2 separate regions of the Homo sapiens genome follow, and region 2 is linked to region 1. Evidence: fine-mapped expression QTL. Tissue or cell type: aorta. Region 1 holds a variant in brackets; the other region holds the start of a gene. All regions are shown on one strand. Distances are from middle to middle.

Evidence for each region. PIP is the estimated chance that this variant, and not a neighbour inherited with it, causes the effect.
Region 2: NUDT14 starts here. The variant in region 1 is fine-mapped to the expression of NUDT14 in aorta (GTEx, PIP above 0.99).

The regions. Positions count from the first base shown.
Region 1 is chr14:105,146,247-105,156,659 of GRCh38, reverse strand. JAG2 (jagged canonical Notch ligand 2) reads left to right here. Exons shown (of 26, transcript NM_002226.5): 4 at 671-922; 5 at 1,038-1,098; 6 at 4,369-4,499; 7 at 4,603-4,722; 8 at 4,921-5,034; 9 at 5,264-5,377; 10 at 5,556-5,669; 11 at 5,749-5,795; 12 at 5,883-6,056; 13 at 7,340-7,490; 14 at 7,571-7,723; 15 at 7,802-7,915; 16 at 8,221-8,334; 17 at 8,431-8,544; 5 more. MIR6765 (microRNA 6765) reads left to right here and starts at 5,796; the gene lies at 5,796-5,882. RefSeq lists an enhancer at 1,071-1,669. The variant C/T (reference allele first, on the strand shown) is at 5,530.
Region 2 is chr14:105,175,631-105,186,043 of GRCh38, reverse strand. NUDT14 (nudix hydrolase 14) reads left to right here and starts at 4,732. Exons shown (of 5, transcript NM_177533.5): 1 at 4,732-4,915; 2 at 8,309-8,352; 3 at 9,017-9,081; 4 at 9,273-9,510. The coding sequence starts at 4,835. RefSeq lists a silencer at 4,563-5,032.

The DNA of each region.
Region 1 (10,413 bases):
CGTCGAGCCTGTGCCTAAGCGCAGGGACCGGCATCACGGACTTTGCATACCAGCGCCAGCAGCTGTGGTGCCCCTGGCCCCTGGTCTCCTGGTGGCTTACTTAAAGTGAGGCTTAGACAGCGGGTCACGGGACCTATGCCTGTCTTGGGGGCCTGAGGGGAGGCTTGTCTTAAGGTGGGGACGGTAGTGGTGTTTGGCACTTCTGGGAGCAAGTCACAGCGCAGGAGAGGGGAGGGCAACTGAGCACCATGTCCGTGCTGTCGAGGGCTGGACACGGCGCAGGTGGGTGCAGGTGTTGGAGCAGGGCTGCAGGTGGGTGGGCACAGGTGTGGGACGTGAGACTCACGCCCTGGCAGCAGCCGTGCCTTCTCTGTGGAGCCTGTGGTCTCAGCAGCCCTCCCTGCAGGGCCCCTAGCCCCTAGCCGGGCCCCCCGACCCTCTGCGTTTAGGGTGGGAGCGGGGCGCAGGCTTGGTGGCGGGAGGGAGAGGCCTCTCGGGGCCCTGAGCTTTCTGTAGCAGCCTGGCCGGGGGCCCTGCCCTCCGTGTGCTGCTGCCTGCTGTGCCCCGGCCTTGCAGCAGCCGCAGGCTTCTGCCCCGTCCCCGTTGTTCCTGGAGGACCCCTGGCCGGGCTGGTTTCTCTGGCCTGTGCTGACTCTGCCGCCTCCCCAAGAGGAGCTGCTGATCGAGCGAGTGTCGCATGCCGGCATGATCAACCCGGAGGACCGCTGGAAGAGCCTGCACTTCAGCGGCCACGTGGCGCACCTGGAGCTGCAGATCCGCGTGCGCTGCGACGAGAACTACTACAGCGCCACTTGCAACAAGTTCTGCCGGCCCCGCAACGACTTTTTCGGCCACTACACCTGCGACCAGTACGGCAACAAGGCCTGCATGGACGGCTGGATGGGCAAGGAGTGCAAGGAAGGTGAGGGGGCCGCTGGGCTGCGTGGAGGGCAGGGAGGGCCTCGGGCAGGGCCCCGGGCACAGGCCTTGCGGCCAGGCTGGCTGCAGCTGTGCCTCTCGCTCCTCTCTGTTCGCAGCTGTGTGTAAACAAGGGTGTAATTTGCTCCACGGGGGATGCACCGTGCCTGGGGAGTGCAGGTGAGTGTGCCGCCGGCCCGTCTTTGCCCTCCCAACCTTTGCCCTCACGTCCTCACTGGCACACACAGCCTTGCTGTCAGGAGTCGCCCGGAGCTGGCTGGAGGTTGGGCACACAGCTGTGAGAGCCGGGCCCTGAGCTCGGGAGGCTCCTTAGTGCAGTAGGTGCGTGTCTGAGCATGGGATGTGTCTGATGGCGGCAGCCATGTGAGGACAGTGAGGAGAGACTGGGGAGGCTGGCTGGACAGTCACGTCACCGAGGGGCAGAGACCCGGAGGCTGCAAGCCACCCAGAGATGGGGCATGGGCAGAGGACACGGTAACCCTGCCCATGGGGAGGGGGTGGGCGGCGAGCGGCCGGCAAGTGACACCAGCAGGCGAGGGGCGGCAGAGCAGACCAGTGGTGGGAGCTGAGGCCTGCAGGACCAGGGACAGAGGAAGGGGCTGCTGGCAGGTTTGTAGCTGGGCAAGGTGGGTGGAAGGGCTGTGGTAGCTGTTGAGTGGGGAAGCACCAGACGGGAGGCTGTGAGGGGGAGGCCGCTGTGGGGCATGTGGGGGTGGTGGGGGAGGGGCCAGCGGGATGGGGAGGGGGTCAGTGGAAGGGGGAGAGGCGCACGGGTCCTGCAGACATCCTGGGGTGGAGCCCAGGGGTTTGTGGATGGATTTGATCAAGCAGGAAGGGTGTGGAGTCAGGGAGAACCCCAAGCTGCTGAGTAGCAGAGCCATGGTGGCAGGAGGAATGCCACAGAGGAGCAGGCGGGGCCGGGGTTAGCTGGATGTGGAGAGGCGATGCCTGCCCTGTCCCTGGAGACACCCAGAAAGCTCGTGGGAGAGGCCTGGCCTGCGCCACGCGGGGCCTGTGGGGGGTGGCATTCAGGCGGTGACGGGAAAGTGGGGAAGGCAGAGAGGAGGGAGGCCAAGGAGCAAGTCCCGGCTGCCACAGGTCAGGGCGGATGGATGAGGAGTCAGCAAGGGCCTCCACAAGGGAGTGTCCGGGGTCTTACAGCCAAGTCCAGATGGTGGAGGCCTCTGGACCCAGACCAGAGTGTGGGGGATCCAGCCAGGGGGGCTGGCAGCTTTGCCCTAGAGTGGAGCAGAGAAGTCAGCAGGGCAACCAGAGGGGCTGGGGCCCAGGGTCTGGGGTGGGCACGGGCTTCGAGCCGTGGCGCTCACTGTGCGTGAGCAAGCTGGGGAGCCCGAGAGAGGGGCGCGAGCGGGTGGAGAGACAGCAGGTGGAGGTGAGCACCGCCCTCCAGCCAGCCTTGGATTGCAGGGGTCCCAGGACCTCCCTCTGTGGAGTGGGTTTGCCTCCATGGGACGAGGACACTGGGGCACAGAGAGCCTACTGATTTCCCCAGGGTCACACAGCGTGGCGTTTTGGAGAGGAGTCGGGGAGTTTGGGAACCAGCTGAGTTGGGAGCCAAGGTGGGGAGGTGGGTGACCCTTCCACAGGCCCCACGGTTGAGTGGCCTGGAGGGTACAGTGAGGAGCTTTCCCGGCCAGTCCCAGAGCGGGGAGGCAAGCAGGGCTGGGGCCGCCCACCCGGTCACTTGCACACACAGGGATTCCCGGCAGGTTGAGCGAGTCCCAAGTCAGCTCAGAAAGTGCAACAAGGTGGACCTGGTCTGGGCAGATGTAGATGTAGATCTACGGGAGTCGGCCCCACTCACCCTCGCCTGGCCCAGTGTGCATCACACAACCTGGATGGCAGTGCCACCCTCCCTGGATGGCTGCTGGCTGGCAGCTTGAATGTCACACCAAGGCTGGAGGAAGGCAGCAGAGAAGTTGGCCATCCCTGCCCTTTACCCGCAGGAAGATGAGCCGGAGTCTGGGGGGCCTGGTGGGTGGGGGCAGTAGGTGAGCTCCGCCTGCCCCTCTTGCTGGCCCTGTCGGGGAGGCCCAGCTGTTGCTGACAGCCTCGGCTCAGGTTCCAGTGCAGGACGCCCCCCCACCGGATGCTGCGGAGATGGCCATGCCTTCCTGCCGCCGCCTCTCCAGGGCCCTGGGGCTGCTGGCTGGGGAAACCAGGAGGTGGGGGCCTGGTGTGGGCTGCCCTGCCCAGGGTCGAGAGCACGCCCTTGGGACCCACGAGGTCTGGGCTCTGAGCCCGGCTGTGGCCGCTCTCTGGCCGATGACCCAAGGTGTGTCACAGCCCCGCCCTGAGCCTGGGTCTCTGTGTCTGTGGAGGAGGGATTCTAGGCGGGATGTGAGGCCACCCACGCGGACCACTGTGCATGCTGGGCTGGATACTGGAGACACGTTCTTCCCGGCCTCAGTTTCCCCATTTGTGGCAGCTGAACTGGGCTGATAGGCCTTCGGTGCTGGCTGTGTGGCTTGAGGGCGGCTCAGGAAGGGCCGTGGTTCTTTCCTTTTACAAAAATAAAGTGTGGCGGGTGCCGGTGTGGAAGTGACGTGGCCTGGATGACATTCCCGTCCTGCAGGACCGGAGAGTTCTAGGAAGGGCCCCCCGGGAGTCCCGGCAGGGCCTGGATGGCAGCCTGCTGAGCCTTGGGGTCGTTGCAGGCTCTCTCCCCTGACGGAGGCACCCTCAAGTCAGGCCATGTTCTACCCTGGCCACCTGCCCTCTCCTGGGGGACTCCCAAGACAGGACGTTGGCCGATAGCCTGGGGCAGGGCGAGTCCTGGTGGTTGTGTCCTGGGGGGTGCAGCTGGGGGTGCAGCTGGAGCTCCTGCAGAATCAGGAACTACCCTGGGCAGGGCTGGCCCAGGCCAGCCTGTGGGCCTCAGTAGCCCCATCTGTGAGATGGGTACCTTGTGGGACTTTACTGGGAGCGAGCGAAATGACTGCCTTTGAGGTGGGGGCGAGGGCACGTGCTGTGCCCAGGGCCACATGGCCGAGGCAGAGCCAGGAGTGCTCCCCTGCTGCCCGCTGGCCTACCCAGCCCCTGGTGCCTCCCGGCCCTGGCAGCACCTTGTGAGTCCGAGCCGGCATTCTCATCCCCGGGGTCCCGGCAGGGCCTTCCTTTCCTGGTGCCTGCTCTCGGGGCCCAGCTCACGGGTGAATCCCAAAATAGCTCAGGGAGGAGTGACGGGACAGCTGGGGCTGACCGTCGGCAGCCAGCGGCCGGGAATGCCCGTGACAGTGGGGCTGGCCGGCAGGGCTGCAACCCCTGCCTGGCTGGGGCTGCTCCAGTTCAAAGGCCTGAGGCCGCCCGCCGGCCCTGGGTGTGGCGTGGGTGACTGTGCCTGGCTCCCCTGCCACCCTTTCAGGCACCACAGCTCACTGGGTCTTGCGCCCCTCCTCCTTCCCCCAGGTGCAGCTACGGCTGGCAAGGGAGGTTCTGCGATGAGTGTGTCCCCTACCCCGGCTGCGTGCATGGCAGTTGTGTGGAGCCCTGGCAGTGCAACTGTGAGACCAACTGGGGCGGCCTGCTCTGTGACAAAGGTAGTGGTAGGGGGCGGCAGGCCTAATGCTCTGCCATCGAAGTGTGGGTTGTGGGGGAGCGGGGGGCCGGCTTTTCCCCTGAGCATCCCACCCCTGCCCCCAGACCTGAACTACTGTGGCAGCCACCACCCCTGCACCAACGGAGGCACGTGCATCAACGCCGAGCCTGACCAGTACCGCTGCACCTGCCCTGACGGCTACTCGGGCAGGAACTGTGAGAAGGGTACGTGGGGGGCTGGCCACCCAAATTCTGGCCAGGCAGGGACTGGTTCCCTGGGGAGCCGGTCAGGCCCCATCCCTCTGGCGTCCTGTGTGGTGGGCCCCTGACCCCCAGCTTGGGAACCTGTGGGCTTGGGGAGGAGTGCTTGTGGAAAGCTGGGGGCCTGGCTGCCAGCTCTGCCCCCTCCCCGCGGTTCTACAGCTGAGCACGCCTGCACCTCCAACCCGTGTGCCAACGGGGGCTCTTGCCATGAGGTGCCGTCCGGCTTCGAATGCCACTGCCCATCGGGCTGGAGCGGGCCCACCTGTGCCCTTGGTGAGTGTCTGCACGTGAGTAGGGGACTCCTGCCTAGTATCAGTGGGGGTCTGGGAGTGGGGCAACTCGCTGGGGATGGGGTGCAGTGGTCAAGTCCACACGTGTGGCTGCGGCTGGCTTGGCGAGGACAAATGGCAGGAAGACCCAGGCTTGCAGCGCCACCTGCCCATGGGGACCTTATTCCCACGGCTCACACTGCCAGGGCCCCACCTTTCTCCACCCTCTGCAGACATCGATGAGTGTGCTTCGAACCCGTGTGCGGCCGGTGGCACCTGTGTGGACCAGGTGGACGGCTTTGAGTGCATCTGCCCCGAGCAGTGGGTGGGGGCCACCTGCCAGCTGGGTAAGGGCTCCGAGCGAGTGCATGGGAACGTGGGCCGCGCATGCGGGCTGCGGGGGCTGCTGGGGCTGCGGGGGCTGCTGGGGCTGCTGGGGCTGCTGGGCTGCGGGTGCCAGGTGCCCGTGCTGCAGGGGGCAGGCAGGGCCCGAGCCCCA[C/T]GGCTCCCACCTTGTCTCTTTCACAGACGCCAATGAGTGTGAAGGGAAGCCATGCCTTAACGCTTTTTCTTGCAAAAACCTGATTGGCGGCTATTACTGTGATTGCATCCCGGGCTGGAAGGGCATCAACTGCCATATCAGTCAGTATGGGGGGTGGGCGCCGGCGGGTGGGCCGAGGCACATGGGACCCCGCCTCTGACCCTGCTCCTCTGCCCCCAGACGTCAACGACTGTCGCGGGCAGTGTCAGCATGGGGGCACCTGCAAGGTGAGGCGGGGCCAGGAGGGTGTGTGGCGTGGGTGCTGCGGGGCCGTCAGGGTGCCTGCGGGACGCTCACCTGGCTGGCCCGCCCAGGACCTGGTGAACGGGTACCAGTGTGTGTGCCCACGGGGCTTCGGAGGCCGGCATTGCGAGCTGGAACGAGACGAGTGTGCCAGCAGCCCCTGCCACAGCGGCGGCCTCTGCGAGGACCTGGCCGACGGCTTCCACTGCCACTGCCCCCAGGGCTTCTCCGGGCCTCTCTGTGAGGTGAGGTCTGCCTGGTCACCCTGCCCCACCTGCTGCTCTGGGAGCTGTAGGGCAGGCCTCGTCCCCTGACCATGGGGCCTGAGTGACCCAGGGGTGCTGCAGGGGAAGTTGTCCCCAAGGCGTCCCAGGCTCAGCTCTCCACTGGGTGCCAGGTGGGCAGGCGGGGCTGTCACAGGTCACCAGGCTTGGCCCCCTGTGGCCATTGCTTGTTGTGATGGGTTTCCTGGTGGCCTGGGCTAGGAGCCCCCGGGCTGCTGGCTGCCCAGGCCTATCTGTCCATCTGTGCACTCCCTCGGGACTGGAGGGCAGGGGGCTCTGGTGGGCAGAGCACATGGGGTAGGGTGGGTGCCTGATGGTGGAGAGGTATACACCTGTCATAGGTGAGTCCTGGGTCGGAGTGGGCATCTCTCTCAGGGCTGATGCTCTCGCCTCCCTCTGACCATCTGTTGGTACTGGACCCCCTCCCCCAACCTCCCCTTCCCCCCTGCCTCCAAAGTAACCTGCCTTCCCCCTTCCCCACCACCCCTACCACCCCCTTCCCCACCTCCCCCTTCCCCACCTCCCCCAACCCTGCCTCCCCCCACCCACCTCACTATCACCCCTCCCCTACCTCCCCCAACCCTGCCTCCCCCCACCCACCTCCCTACCACCCCCTTCCCCACCTCCCCCAACCCTGCCTCCCCCCACCCACCTCCCTACCACCCCCTTCCCCACCTCCCCCAACCCTGCCTCCCCATTACCTGCCTCCCTACCACCCCCTCCCCTTACTTCCCCTTTTTCCCTGCCTCCCCCCACCCACCTCCCTACCACCCTCGGCCGCCCACGATCCTGCCCTGGCCTTGGTGCAGAGGATGGGCCTCCTGTCCAGAGGGCTTCTTGGGGCCCAGGGCAGGGGTCTGACCTCAGGACCTGCAAGCATGGCAGTGGCTGGCCCTGGAAAAGACCCACAGTCTTGGCTCTGAGGGTGGCCAGGCAGTGTGTGAGGGGCTCAGGAGCTGTCCTTCCTGCCAGCAGCAGGGGCCAAGGCCACACTCCTCCCGAGGGACAGTGAGGAAGCTGGGCTGCAGTGGAGGTGGGGGTGGGGGCCCACAGGTATCTGCGTTCAGCTAAGGCCTGGGCAGTCTCAGGTGGGCAGGGGTCTTGGGCTCTGGCTGGCACTGTTAGGCCCAGGGCGGAGGGGCCTGGGGGTCCCCAGGGATCTACCTTCGTATGGACAGAGGCCTGGCCTGTGTTCCCGGCCTGGGCCTGGGCCTAGGCTCTCACAGGCACCCCCCACCCTGCAGGTGGATGTCGACCTTTGTGAGCCAAGCCCCTGCCGGAACGGCGCTCGCTGCTATAACCTGGAGGGTGACTATTACTGCGCCTGCCCTGATGACTTTGGTGGCAAGAACTGCTCCGTGCCCCGCGAGCCGTGCCCTGGCGGGGCCTGCAGAGGTGCTGGGTGCGGCATGGGGTGGTGGGGGAGGTGGTGGGGCAGGGGCGGGCCTGACTCCTGACTGTACTGCCTGCCATAGTGATCGATGGCTGCGGGTCAGACGCGGGGCCTGGGATGCCTGGCACAGCAGCCTCCGGCGTGTGTGGCCCCCATGGACGCTGCGTCAGCCAGCCAGGGGGCAACTTTTCCTGCATCTGTGACAGTGGCTTTACTGGCACCTACTGCCATGAGAGTGAGTGGCCACGAACGGCGGGCTGGTGGTGGGGCTGGGCTGGCCTGAGGCCCTGGCTCACCCCGCTCGCCTCTGCAGACATTGACGACTGCCTGGGCCAGCCCTGCCGCAATGGGGGCACATGCATCGATGAGGTGGACGCCTTCCGCTGCTTCTGCCCCAGCGGCTGGGAGGGCGAGCTCTGCGACACCAGTGAGTGTTCCAGCACCCGCCCACACGGCCTGTGCCTCCACCCCTGTGGGCCCCTTATCACCCTGAGATGGACCGCTGTCTGGGTGCGGCAGGCCCCGTACCCAGAAAGGCCTGGCCAGGGGGTGCTGCCACCATGGGGTGGAGTCCCAGGCTGCCCCCATGCCCGAGGCCAGCTCCCCCGGCCCGACGCTCCTCCCCCGCCCCTCTCTGTCCTCACCTGGCCCAGCTCCAGTGCTTCCTCCCCCGGGAAGCCCTCCCTGAGCGCCGGTGACCCCCCGCCCGCTGACCGGCGTCCTCGCCCCCAGATCCCAACGACTGCCTTCCCGATCCCTGCCACAGCCGCGGCCGCTGCTACGACCTGGTCAATGACTTCTACTGTGCGTGCGACGACGGCTGGAAGGGCAAGACCTGCCACTCACGTGAGTGTCCGCAGGCCCTGGCCGCCTGGGGCTGCCCCCAGGACCCTGGCCCTGGCGGTCTGGGGCCTGCCTGCTGAGCGGCCCATGTGCCAACAGGCGAGTTCCAGTGCGATGCCTACACCTGCAGCAACGGTGGCACCTGCTACGACAGCGGCGACACCTTCCGCTGCGCCTGCCCCCCCGGCTGGAAGGGCAGCACCTGCGCCGTCGGTGAGGAGCCCCCGCTGCCTCTGCGACCGCCGGGCATATGCCCTCCCAGGCACCGCTCCCTCGGGCGCGATGGGCCGAGGGGTCTTTTTTGAGGGCCACACCTGCCACCTGCCCCCTGCCCCCTGCCCCCGGGTCTGTCTGCCCTGTCTGGGTTGGGGGCGCGGTATGGAGACCCAGGGCCAGCCCAGGGCCAGGTGAGACGCTCCCTCCTCCTCCTCTCCTTACAGCCAAGAACAGCAGCTGCCTGCCCAACCCCTGTGTGAATGGTGGCACCTGCGTGGGCAGCGGGGCCTCCTTCTCCTGCATCTGCCGGGACGGCTGGGAGGGTCGTACTTGCACTCACAGTGAGTGTGGGAGGGGTGTGGGCGGGGGCCGCTTTCCTCCACCCAGATGACATCCCTGCCCCCGACTCGCCCCCCAGTCCCTTCTGCCAGCCCCTCCCCCTGCTGCCCCTGCCCCCAGCAAAAGGCACCCTCCTTGATGACCCTCCCCAGCCCCACAGCCTGATCACGCCAAGCCAGCCTGGACAGTGCCTGGCACGCTTGGGGGGTGGGTACTGATCCCCTGCGTTCTCTTCTCCCAAACCAGATACCAACGACTGCAACCCTCTGCCTTGGTGAGTGGCACCCTGGGGGCCACAGCAGGGGTGGGTGGGACTTGGCATACCACGGGGGGCCACCTGATGCCCACCCTCTGCTCTGCAGCTACAATGGTGGCATCTGTGTTGACGGCGTCAACTGGTTCCGCTGCGAGTGTGCACCTGGCTTCGCGGGGCCTGACTGCCGCATCAGTGAGTGGCCAGACAGCCCCAGCCCTGGGAGCCCCTCAGCCCAGCCGCGGTGTCAGGAGTCTGGGGACATCAACGTCCACGTCCCTTGAAGGGCAGTGTGGCCACAACTACTTCCTGCCTCTCTTCTGAGCCTCAGTTTCCCCACATGTCTGTGCCCTGTGGGGTTCCTGCTGTATACCCTGCCAAGTGATTAAGTGGGGAGCCCCAGCCTGGGGGACCAGTCCGGGGCCCAGGGAGCTGTGGGGGTTGGAGCGTGCAGCCTGACGTGGGCTCCTCTGTGGCCGCAGGGCTGTTGTCCCTGGGTGTTGGCCCAGCTGTCTGTCCAGCACCCCTTGGCTGGTCCGACGCAGCAGCTGGGGCTAATCCAGGATGGGACAGGCCCACTGCAGAAGCAGACGGAGGAGGGTGCTGTTGGGCCAGGGTCAGGCTGGGCTCAGGAAGGCCTCAGGCAGGCAGCAGCTTGGGCTCGGGGGCAGGGGCTGCTCCTCATTGTCCTGGGGCTTGCGCCTGTGTGCCACTGGCTCCCCGCTGCCCTAGGCCATGCCGGTCCTGCGGTGGGCGTTGGCCTCACTGCACTGAGCAGCGGTGGCTCTCCCTGCAGACATCGACGAGTGCCAGTCCTCGCCCTGTGCCTACGGGGCCACGTGTGTGGATGAGATCAACGGGTATCGCTGTAGCTGCCCACCCGGCCGAGCCGGCCCCCGGTGCCAGGAAGGTAGGCCCCGTGTGATTGCCCTGGGTTGGGGCGGGTTGGGGGGCATGGGTGACACCCAGCCCCGAGGGCCAGATGCCCACTGCTGACCCTCGAGCCCCTTCTCCCCACAGTGATCGGGTTCGGGAGATCCTGCTGGTCCCGGGGCACTCCGTTCCCACACGGAAGCTCCTGGGTGGAAGACTGCAACAGCTGCCGCTGCCTGGATGGCCGCCGTGACTGCAGCAAGGTGAGGGCAGCCCGTGAGCCGCCCTGCCCTACCCGAGGCTGGTGCACGCTGACCCTGGCCACTCTGTGAGATCAGGAGGCGGGTGCTGGGGTCCGGATGGACTGAGAGCCGTCTGCCCTCAGGGACACCCAGGGAGGC
Region 2 (10,413 bases), 29 kb before region 1:
CCCCGACCTCCTGACCCCCCATCCTGATCCTCCTCCAGCTTCCCCTCAACTCAGCCTCTCTCGGGACACTCCCTCTGCACTTACCTCGGAATCCCCGCCCCTGGCTTTCCTGCACCCCTCCCGCCCCTGACTCCCCCACGTCCTCCCCACCCCCCGCACCCCCACCTGGGCTCTGTCATGCCTGTAGCTCCCTGCTCAGTGTCCTCAACTCTCCAATCCACCTGCTGCCTGTGACCTTACTGGGAAGGAGCTGAGCCATGGAGGAGCCCAGGGGCCCCCCTTGTACCTGCCCTGCCTCCAGCATGGCCCAGGAGCATCCCCAGCCCGGTGCCACCAGGAAGCCTTGCTCCCCAGGCCCCCTCGGAGCCCGCACCCAAGCCCCCTGCCAACAGGGGCCACTTCGCCTCCCTCCCCTCCCATCTCATCCTTGGCAGGGGCCCTTGCCTCACTCCCCTTACAGAGGAAGGGGGACAGAAGCCCACAGCGGTCTCCTAGGTGTCCTGCAAGAAACCCGCCCACTTGCTGCGGGGCGAGGCCCCAGGCTGCAGATCCTGGCGCCACAGGGTCCTGCCCTGGTGGTGATGCCCTCCCGACGCATCCTCCCCAGAGTCCACACCTGGATCCCCAGAACCTGCGAGTATGGACCTTCTGTGGCAAAGGGGACTTAGCAGGTTTGACTAACAGAAGGACCCGAGGTGGGAGATGGCCCCGGATGGCCCCGGATGACCCGGGGGGGCCCTAAATTGTGGTCACAAGGACCTCAGAAGAGGGAGCAGGAGGGTGGAGACGCGAGGACGGAGGCAGAGTCGGGGGAGGACGGAGGGGCGCTCTGCTGGCCTTGAAGGTGAGGAGGGGGCGGGGGCCGCCTCCGGAAGCTGGAGAAGACAAGGAATGGATCTTCCCCTGGAGCCCCCAGAAGGAGCCGCCCTGTGACCCTTGACCTTCACCCGGTGGGATGCGTTTTGGACACCCGTCCCCCAGGGCTGGAAGGCCATGGCCGTGCTGTTCCCAGCTGCTGGGTTGGCAGTGGTTTGTCTTGGCAGCCCTGGGGAGCTGACACTGGTGCTCTCACCCCACATGCCCTCTGGCCCCGCTACAGGGCATCTGCAGGGGCCTCTGCCACTATGCTCAGCAGGGTCTTTGAAGCCTCCACACTGCCAAAGCCAGAGGTGGCTTTTCAGAGCTCTCCACTGTGGCTCTCAGGCCACCTGGCCACACGGAGTCCTCTCATTCCCCCTCCTGGAGCCCCTCCCCAAATCAAGCTCCTCCTCCTCCTCCTGCACCTGCTTCCATGGGGAACGAAGCCATCCTCTGCACAGCCACCACTCTGGACAACAGCCAAAGGCCCTCGGACCAGTCTCCTCCTCCCCCGGCCCCAGGCAGCCACGGTGACCTCCCAGAGGGGCATCTGACCACCTGCCCTGCCCAACCCCTCCGAGACTTCCAGTGGCCCCAGGGGATGTGCCAAGCACAGGCCAAGGGAGCTGCCCCCAGGGCCACAACGCCTCTTCTGGCCTCGGTCTCCTCCTGCCAGGACAGCTTCCTTTCTCCTGCCTTGGATCTTCGGGTTTCTGGGGAGTGTCGTGTCCTCGGGGAGGCTGTCCTCTGCCTCTTGGCATGCCTGTCCTAACTTCTTGTGACATCAGGCCTGCCCCGAATCACCTGTTCGAGCCACCCCAGTGCACAGCAGGAACTGGTAAAGTGCCTGGGCTGCTTCTGCCTTTTCTCCCTTTCCATCTCGGAGGGACAGCAGGCCTCACTTGCCCTGTCCTCAGCTCCACGTGTGGGCAGTGGCCTTGTGGTCATAGACAGCATGGAATGTTCCTGAATAGCCTCAGTGACACTGGTTTTTCCTTTTTTTAAAAAAAAAAAAATTGAACCGAGCCAGGCATGGTAGTGTGAACCTGTAGTCCCAGCTACTCAGCAGGCCGAGGTGGGGGAATTGCTTGGGGCCAGGAGTTCAAGTCCAGCCTGAGCCACATCATGAGACCCTATCTCTAAATAAAATTTGTTTAAAATGGAACTGAAATTCACAGAACATTAAACACTTCACAGTGCACACTGAGCGGCATTCAGTACATTCATACTGCTGTGCGGCCACCAGCACTGCCTGCTTCCAGAATGCCTTCTTCACCCCAAACGGAAAGGAAAGCCGGCACCCATTAGTCAGCATTCTTCATTCTCCCGCCCTCAGCCCCACCAGTCCGCAGCTGCTTTTCCGTCTCATGGATTTACCTGTTCTGGACATTTTCTTTTTTCTTTCTTGCTTTTTGTCTCCCTCCCTCCCTTTCTCTGCCTTGCCTTGCCTTGCTTTGCCTTTGCCTTTGCCTTTGCCTTTCTTGATGGAGTCTTACTCTGTCACCCAGGCTGGAATGCAGTGTCAAGATCTCAGCTCACCGCAACCTCTCCCTCCCGTGTGCAAGCGATTCTCGTGCCTCAGCCTCCCGAGAAGCTGGGATTACAAGCACACACCACCACGGCTGGCTTTTAGTAGAGACAGGGTTTCACCATGTTGTCCAGGCTGGTCTCGAACTCTTGACATCACGTGATCTGCCTGCCTCGGCCTCCCAAAGTGCTGGGATTACAGGCATGAGCCACCGCGCCCGGCCTGGACATTTCATATACACAAAATCGCAGAGGACACGGCCTTTGTGTCTGGCTTCTTTTGCTGAGCATAGTGTCGCTGTCGCTTGTGTGGGAATTTCTCTCCTCATGGCTGAGTTGTGCTACCTTACACGTCTACACTGCATTTTCTGGATCCATTCACCTGGCAACGGATGCTTGGGTTGTTCTTCCCTTTGGCTGCTGTGAGGAAGCATCTGTCTGAGTGTCTGTTTTCAACTCCTTTGGGTGGATACCCAGGAAGACAGTTGCTGGACCACAGGGTAATTCTATGCTTAACTTTTTGAGGAGCCGCCAGGCTGCGTCCCACAGTGGGCTCCTTGCTGATATTTTCAGGCACTCAGCTCTGCAGTCTGCACTGCCAGACACCTGGACCCGAGTGAGTCTGAGGAGCACGGTGCTTTGAGGAGCTGCTGGCTCTCCCAGGGGCTCCTTGATGGGGCTCCTGTTGCCTCTGCCTGTCCCGGGGCTGCTGCTGCTGGAAGCTGAGACTCATCCTCATTTTCCATGCAACCACGGGCAGGAAGGAGCCTGCACGCGACATGCCAGGGTGCGCGCTTACCCTGGGCCCCTCGTGCACCGGAGGAAGAGGCCTGCCTGGCTGTGGGGTAGGGTGGGGCCAGCTTCTGGGCTGGGCGCTCTGGCTTCCGGGACACCAGGCGGAATGGCTAAAGCAGGGAGACACAGGCCCCTGTAGAGCTACTGGGGCGGTGACAGCTGGACTTGGATGCTGGCTTCATGACCGTGCTCCCCAGCGTTCCCACCTGGTGATGTCCCTCCCCTGGAATCTGCCGGAGGCCCAGGACTTTCTGACCCACAGGATGCCCCAGGAATGACACCATATGACATCTGAGGCCAGGTCACACAAAGCCTGGCAGCTTGGCCTGGCCTGGTGAACGTGCTCTGGAGGGAGCCAGCTGCCACGGGAGAATCCAACTACCCCGAGACCACCATGCTGCAGGGAAGCCCACGCCAGCCACATGGGAGGCCAGCCGGCCCTAGCTGTTCCAGCCACCCAACTGAGGGCGGGGGCGAAGAGGCCATCCTGGACGGTCCACCCCGTTTGGCCTTCAGACGACTCCAGCCCCAGCTGCCACCTGATTACAACTGCAGAGAGACCCCAAGACAGGGCTGCCTGGCTGAGCTGGGCAACCCACAGGCCAGGCGATAACGGGGTGCTTTAAGGCACTAAGCTTTGGAGGAGTGTTTTGTTACACGGCAATAGTTAACAGGGAACTGGGAGTCGATTTCAAGCTCACATGGCCAGTCCACCCTGAGCATGTCCCCTGGGCCATAGTTCAGAAAGCAGGTGCAGGTCAGGGTTCAGGGCCAGTGTGGGCCTCAATATTGTTTCCTGCCCCCGTGGAGGCCGTGGTGGCATTTGGAGGGGGTCCTTGGAATCCATGCCCAAGGAAGCACTGAAGCTGCCTGGGACCCTCCCACACCCAGGAAGGGCCGTCATCAAGGTAGGACTTGCAGGGGGAGGGAAGGGCAGCTGGCTTTTGAGTGGAGGAGGGACAGCTCCAGAGACAGCGTGGCAGCTCCCAGCCACCCTCGCCACCAGGAACCTCGAGGGGAGGCCCCCTCGGCCCAAGCTCTGGCCCCTCCAGCTCCCTACTCTCCTCTCCCCTAGCTTCCTTCCAGGGCCCTCTCTCTTTGGTCTCCTGTGATTTTCTTCCTGGGCCCACAGTCCCTCCCTCCCTGGGGGGCTGCCCCGCCCCCGGCCCCGCCCGCGGACCCCTGGAGTAACTTAATCTCGGGGTTGTGGTCCATCCCCAGAGTGGGGAGGCATCCGCTCGGCCCATCGCACCCCAAAGCTGCAGGCCCTTAGCTCCAACCACCGCCAGGCCCTCCCTCCCCCAGCCAAGAGGTCCCGAGTCCCACCCAAGCACTGTACCCCGGCCCGGCTGGCCCCGCCCGGCGGCCGGGGTCGACCCGGCCAGTCCTTCCCCCGGGCGACGCCCACGTGCCTGCGCGGCTTCCCTGGCACCGCGGCGACCAGCGCCCCGAGGCGCGCGGCACCCGACAGGTGGCACCTGCGAGCCCCGCCCACCTCGGCCGCCCCGCCCACCTCGGCCGCCCCGCCCCGCGCGCCCACGGAGCATGCTCAGAGCCGCGGTCACGCGCCCGCCCGAAGGCTCCTGTCGGGACAGGGCGCCGCCCCGTGTCGGCCCCCGCAGAGCTCGCGGCCCCCGCCTGTCCGGGCGCCGCCATGGAGCGCATCGAGGGGGCGTCCGTGGGCCGCTGCGCCGCCTCACCCTACCTGCGGCCGCTCACGCTGCATTACCGCCAGGTGAGCCCGCGCCCCCGCGTCCCCCGCGCCCCCGCCGGCGGCCCGGCCCACGACCCGCGCCCCGCCCACCATCTTCCGCGCTGCCGGCCCCGCCCCGGAGCCCCGCCCCCGCCTCCCGCCGATCTCCCGGGCGGCCGCTTGTCCGCCCGCCGGATCGCGGGTTCCCAGACCCAGTGAGCCCCCAGGCCGGGGAGGGGCCGCGGGAGGGACATCTGAGGGGGCACCACTCATCCTTTCAAGGAAGCATTGCTGGGCCCCATCCTTCCCGCCCGCCCAATCCGACCCTCTTGGCAGTGGAACTCCTTGGTTGCCCTGGGGATCAGGGAAGGCTTCCTGGAAGTGGTGGCTTTCATGCTACCACTTGAAGGAGGAGATAGCTGGGCCGAGGAGGAGGGAGCAAGGAGCGCAGAGGCCGGGCGCAGGGAGGTAGGAGAAGGAGCTGAGTGAGAACTTGAGAGAGCCTCTCAAAGCAGGCTTCCTCCTTGGGGTTTTTTCCAGGGAGGGCACCTCCTTGGAGTCTCCATCTGCCTAAGCTCAGCCTTCCCCACCTCCTAGGGTGTCACCTTCTCCCATGCCAGGCCACGGCACAAGAGGCTGTATTGCCTCACTTAGCACCAGGCACATGGTAGGTTCACAAGGAATATTTTGTTTTGTTTTGTTTTTGAGACAGGGTCTTGCTGTCGCCCAGGCTGGAGTGCAGTGGCATGGTCACAGCTCACTGCAGCCTCAACCTCCTGGGCTCAAGCGATCCTCCTGCCTCAGCCCCCGCCCCAGTAGCTGGGACCACAGGTGCACACCACCACACCTGGCTAATGTTTAAATTTTTTTGTAGAGACGACGTCTCACTGTTGCCCAGGCTGGTCTTGAACTTCTGGCCTCAACCGATCCTCCTGCCTTGGCTTCCCAAAGCATGGGGATTACAGGCATGAGGCATATGTGTTGGGTGAAGGAGCTGCTGCCATCCTTTTCCCACATCCAGTGGATCACTGAGTCCCGGGCCGTCTTCCTCCAAGCCCAGCCCTGTCCAGTTAGGGCCCCACCTTTTGCTTGCATGCCCACCTGCCCCCAGCAGATCTCCCCTCTGCCAGAGCTCCTTCATGCCATTAAGGCAAAGACCACCTTCCTGGTCACAGTCAGTCCAGCCCCCCAGCCTATCAGGTCAGGTGGTCCAGGTCGCAGTGCCTCTCTGCCTGCCTGCCTCCCTCCCTCAGGGGGCATCCTGTCCCCCCCATCACATCCAGGACTCTGCCCCTCGCCATCCTGGAGAAGCCCTCTTGGCCCCCAGCCTGAGAGAGGCCCTGTGCCCCTCACTTTCCCTGTTGCGGGAGTCCTGTTGGCGCTGGAGGACAGGGGATCCCTCTCCCCAAGGCGAAGCTAAGCTGGTGGTGCTGGCAGGGGGCAGCTGGGATCAGTCGGGGTACAGCAGGTGGAGACATGGGGTCACTGCCCTTTTCCCTGACGTTGGCCATATGGGATGCCTGCTTGTGGCTGCACAGTCCCCACAGGGCTGGGTCTCAGGCAGCAGGTGCAGGCCCAGGCAGGTGCCCTCTGTGGCCCTGGTGGCAGCACTCTCTCCCTCACTCCCCGTGAAGCCTCAGGGCAGCCCTTGCAGCCTCAGCGGGCAGCCCGCCGGCACAGCTCTGCTGAAGGGTTCTGGTGACCAGAGCTGAGCTGGTTCGGGCTGTGGCTGTGGTGGACACGGATGTAGGCTCGGGCTGGGCGGCATCTCCTCAGGGCCAAGGGACATTGGGCTGGACGCTGGCTGCCACCCAGGGGCAGCTGCAGCCCTCAGCTTTTTGCTGCGTCCAGCCAGGGGAGGCCTGTGATGTCAGGCAGACCAAAGGCAGGGGACCCCCGTGGCTCCGAGGCGATGGGGTCTTCTTTGCACCCAGCCCTGCCCCTCCCTCCCAGGCCTCAGCAGCCTCCCTAAACCTCCCTGCACCTTGACCTGGCTGGACCTAAGGGTCTGACACGCTTTTGACCTTGAGCTGAGAGGGTCCTTGAGACCTGCATGGGGTGATGTTACTCGGGGGGAAGCAGTGGTGGGGAAGGGGCATGGGCACAGCAGGCACATGGCAGGCTGTGGGCAGGGGGCTTCCCTGGAGCCTGCCCTGGCTGGGTGGTGGTTCGGGGGTGGCTGGGTGTCAGGCAGGCCTGGGGTCGCCTCCCGGGAGTGGTACCCCACGGCCTCTCGGGCTGCCTGACCTGCGCGGGACGCCGGCCCTCCCTTCCCTTGGAAACCGGTACTCTCCTCCCAGGACGCCTTTGCCTCCCGGCCAAGCTCAGAGGGCCTCTGCGCCTCTGCCTGCCCAGAGTCCCTTCCCTCACTTCCGTCACCTCCTCCAGAAAGTCCTCAGGAAGGCTTCTTCTCTCTTCTGCAGTCCTGGCTGCACTTCTGTGTCTCTGCTGCTCAGACCTCTTGTCCATTTCACAGCCCTGGGCAGAGCCCCCGGTGGGGGATGAGCAGCTGGCCTGGGCCTCAGAGTGGCAGATGGGCTGAGCGTGCCGGAGATGGGACCCCGCGGGACCCCAGGCTCAGCCCCCAGGATGGGAGTGCATCTCAGAATGCATCAGTTCCAGCCTCCCCCAGCAGGCCCAGCCCACACACCTGCCCACCCTGCCTCCTCCGTTCACTGAGTGCCACCCAGGGTGCAGGGGCCTGCCAGGGTGGTGTGCCCAGTGTGGGGGAGTGGGAAGGTGGAGGGTGGCCACAGGAGAACGGGACCACAGGGTATGTGGGAGAGTCGAGGCCAGAAACTGGGGGTAGGGGTGTGTGGGGGGGCTGCCGAGCCTGGTCACCATCATGACAGTCACCGAGTCCTGCAGTGCGATCTCCTACCTGGCTGGGGCGCCACCCTTCCTCATCTGCTCCTGGTGCCAGCCCCTCCTGCCACCCTTCCCCATCCACTCCTGGTGCCGGCCCCTCCTGCCCTCCCGTCTCCACCTGTTCAGTGGCCCAAGGAAGCATCAGCAGGAAAACCTGACCTCTCCTCTGCCTGCAGGGCCCTCCTGCCCTGCTGTGAGGGAGTCACGCCTGCCCTCCCCGAGCCTCCATGAGCCTTCCTATACTTGGTGACGGTGTACGTCTCTCTGCAGCCCCTTGTGCTCGGTCTGTGCTGGGCAGTGTTTCATGAGGTGCCTGGACACCTTCCCTGCCCTTTGCCCTGGTCTTCTGCCTCACTCGTAGGGTATTAGGCTGTCCTTGACCTCCCTGCCCCTCCCAGGCTGCTTGCTCCTCTGCCCACGGGAGCTGCAGTTCCTGGCTCCCGTGGGCCCAGGCCACGAGCCGATCTCCCTGGTTAGGAGTGGGTGCAATGGGTCTGTGGCCTCCTCGGTTCCCCGAGCACCTCCGCCCATCCTGGGACATTCTAACCGCTGACCTGCCCCTTCTAGAATGGTGCCCAGAAGTCCTGGGACTTCATGAAGACGCATGACAGGTGAGAGCCTGGCCCAGCCTGGCCACTGGGGAAGCCCCAGACTGATGTCTACGGGGACACTGGGCCCAGGGCGAAGGTGCCCTCTCCTCCCTGACGTTGCTGTTCCCTGCGTGGGCTCCAAAAGTCCCTTCTCTCTGCCCGGCCTCTGGGTTTCCTATCCCTGAGGGGTCAGCCTGAGGCCTGGGGGCTGAGTCAGGTCTTTGCTCAGGCCACCGGGACCATGATGGTGGGCAGGCCCTCTCAGGGCAGGGAGAGGCTGTCCTGGAGCCTTTGCCCCTAGCATCCAGGGTCTGGGCTGGATGGCGACGTGGCTCGAGGAGTGTGGCTGGTGGGCAGCTGCTCAGTGAGGGCCAAACGTCCTGTCAGTCACCCGGCCTCAGCTGCGAGCACCCTGACCTACTCAGCTGCCCGTGTGTCCTTCCCTGCCCCCCGCCTCCCATCCTGCCAGCTGGAATACAGCAGGTCTGGGTCCTGGCCAGACTGTGACCCTGGAAAGCTCTGGTCCCGCCTGGGCCTCAGCCATCCTATCTGAGCAAGGGGCCTGACCTCCCTGGGCTGCTGGCAAGGAGGTGGGATGGCCACGCTGGGAACAGAAAGATGGGAGGTGGGGCCCCACGAGGGCCAGTGGAGTGCTTCTGTGCTGAGCCCCTCCCCCCGTACACAGCGTGACCGTTCTCTTATTCAACTCTTCTCGGAGGAGCCTGGTGTTGGTGAAGCAGTTCCGGCCAGGTGAGGCCAGCTGGGGTGGGAAGGGGATCTGCAGGGTCACCTTCAGGTCCCTGTGGTCCTGAGGGTCTGAATACAGATGTGGGAGGGGGCTCCAGGGGAAGCTGAGGCCCTGGGAGGGGGCTTGGCTGTGTGGGTGACCTGGAGGTGGCCACCACGTGGCTGTGAGCACAGTCTGGCTTCTTCCCACGCAGCTGTGTATGCGGGTGAGGTGGAGCGCCGCTTCCCAGGGTCCCTAGCAGCTGTAGACCAGGACGGGCCTCGGGAGCTACAGCCAGCCCTGCCCGGCTCAGCGGGGGTGACAGTTGAGCTGTGTGCCGGCCTCGTGGACCAGCCTGGGCTCTCGCTGGAGGAAGTGGCTTGCAAGGAGGCTTGGGAGGAGTGTGGCTACCACTTGGCCCCCTCTGATCTGCGCCGGGTCGCCACATACTGGTGAGTGGGACCAGGCCCTCAGGCCTGTGGTGTGACTCAGGAGATGGGAGAGAGTGAGGGCCCCGTCCCTGGGAGTGTGCAAGCAGGATGGATTCCTCCTTGTTTTCCAACATGGGATTAGGGGAGGGTTGGACCGAATGCGCCTCAGCTCCTAAGCCAGGCCAGAATCTGGGCTCTTGGGGCTCTCTCTGCAGCGTCTCGGCCCCATGCCCCCAGCCTGCGGCCCCCAGCTGTGTGAGGCAGGCCGGGTGACAGCTGCTGCTGACAGGTGCCTCTACTTCCTGTAGGATTAAGACCGGGCGCTGGGGGTGGGGGTGACTCACAGCTCTGTTCTCAGAGGGTGGCTTAGGAATGAGGGAGAAGCTGTGTCCTGGGCTGGAGAAGGGGTGGCTCCAGCTCTCCTGGGGAACAGGCACTAGAGCCTGCGCTTTGGGACCTGACCCACCAAACTCGAGGCACCAACTCTTGCCCCGCGAGGGCTGCCAGCTGGGGTGGGGTTGCCTTCCCAGGACTAGATGTTGGTATGAAGCCCATCCACTTCCCCAGGGACGCTACGATGGGCTCCTGACCCCAGCTGAGGTCTTGGGGAAGGAGGAGGGTGTCACAGACCCCCACCCCCACCAGCTGAGCACCAGCCTCCACAGCCTCCTCCAGAGGCCAGGGCCCGCTCCACTGGGAGAAGCACCGGAAGTCTCTGCACCTGTCAGCCTGGCACATGGGCCACTCAGGGTTGAGCCTGGGGCCCTCCCACCTCAGCAGCCTCAAGGACTTCACCTGGGCACGTTCCTGGCTGGATGGGTGGACTCCCAAGTTAAAGGCAGCATTTCCACGCTGGGCCAGGCACGGTGGCTCACGCCTGTAATCCCAGCACTTTGGGAGGCCGAGGCAGGCGGATCACCTGAG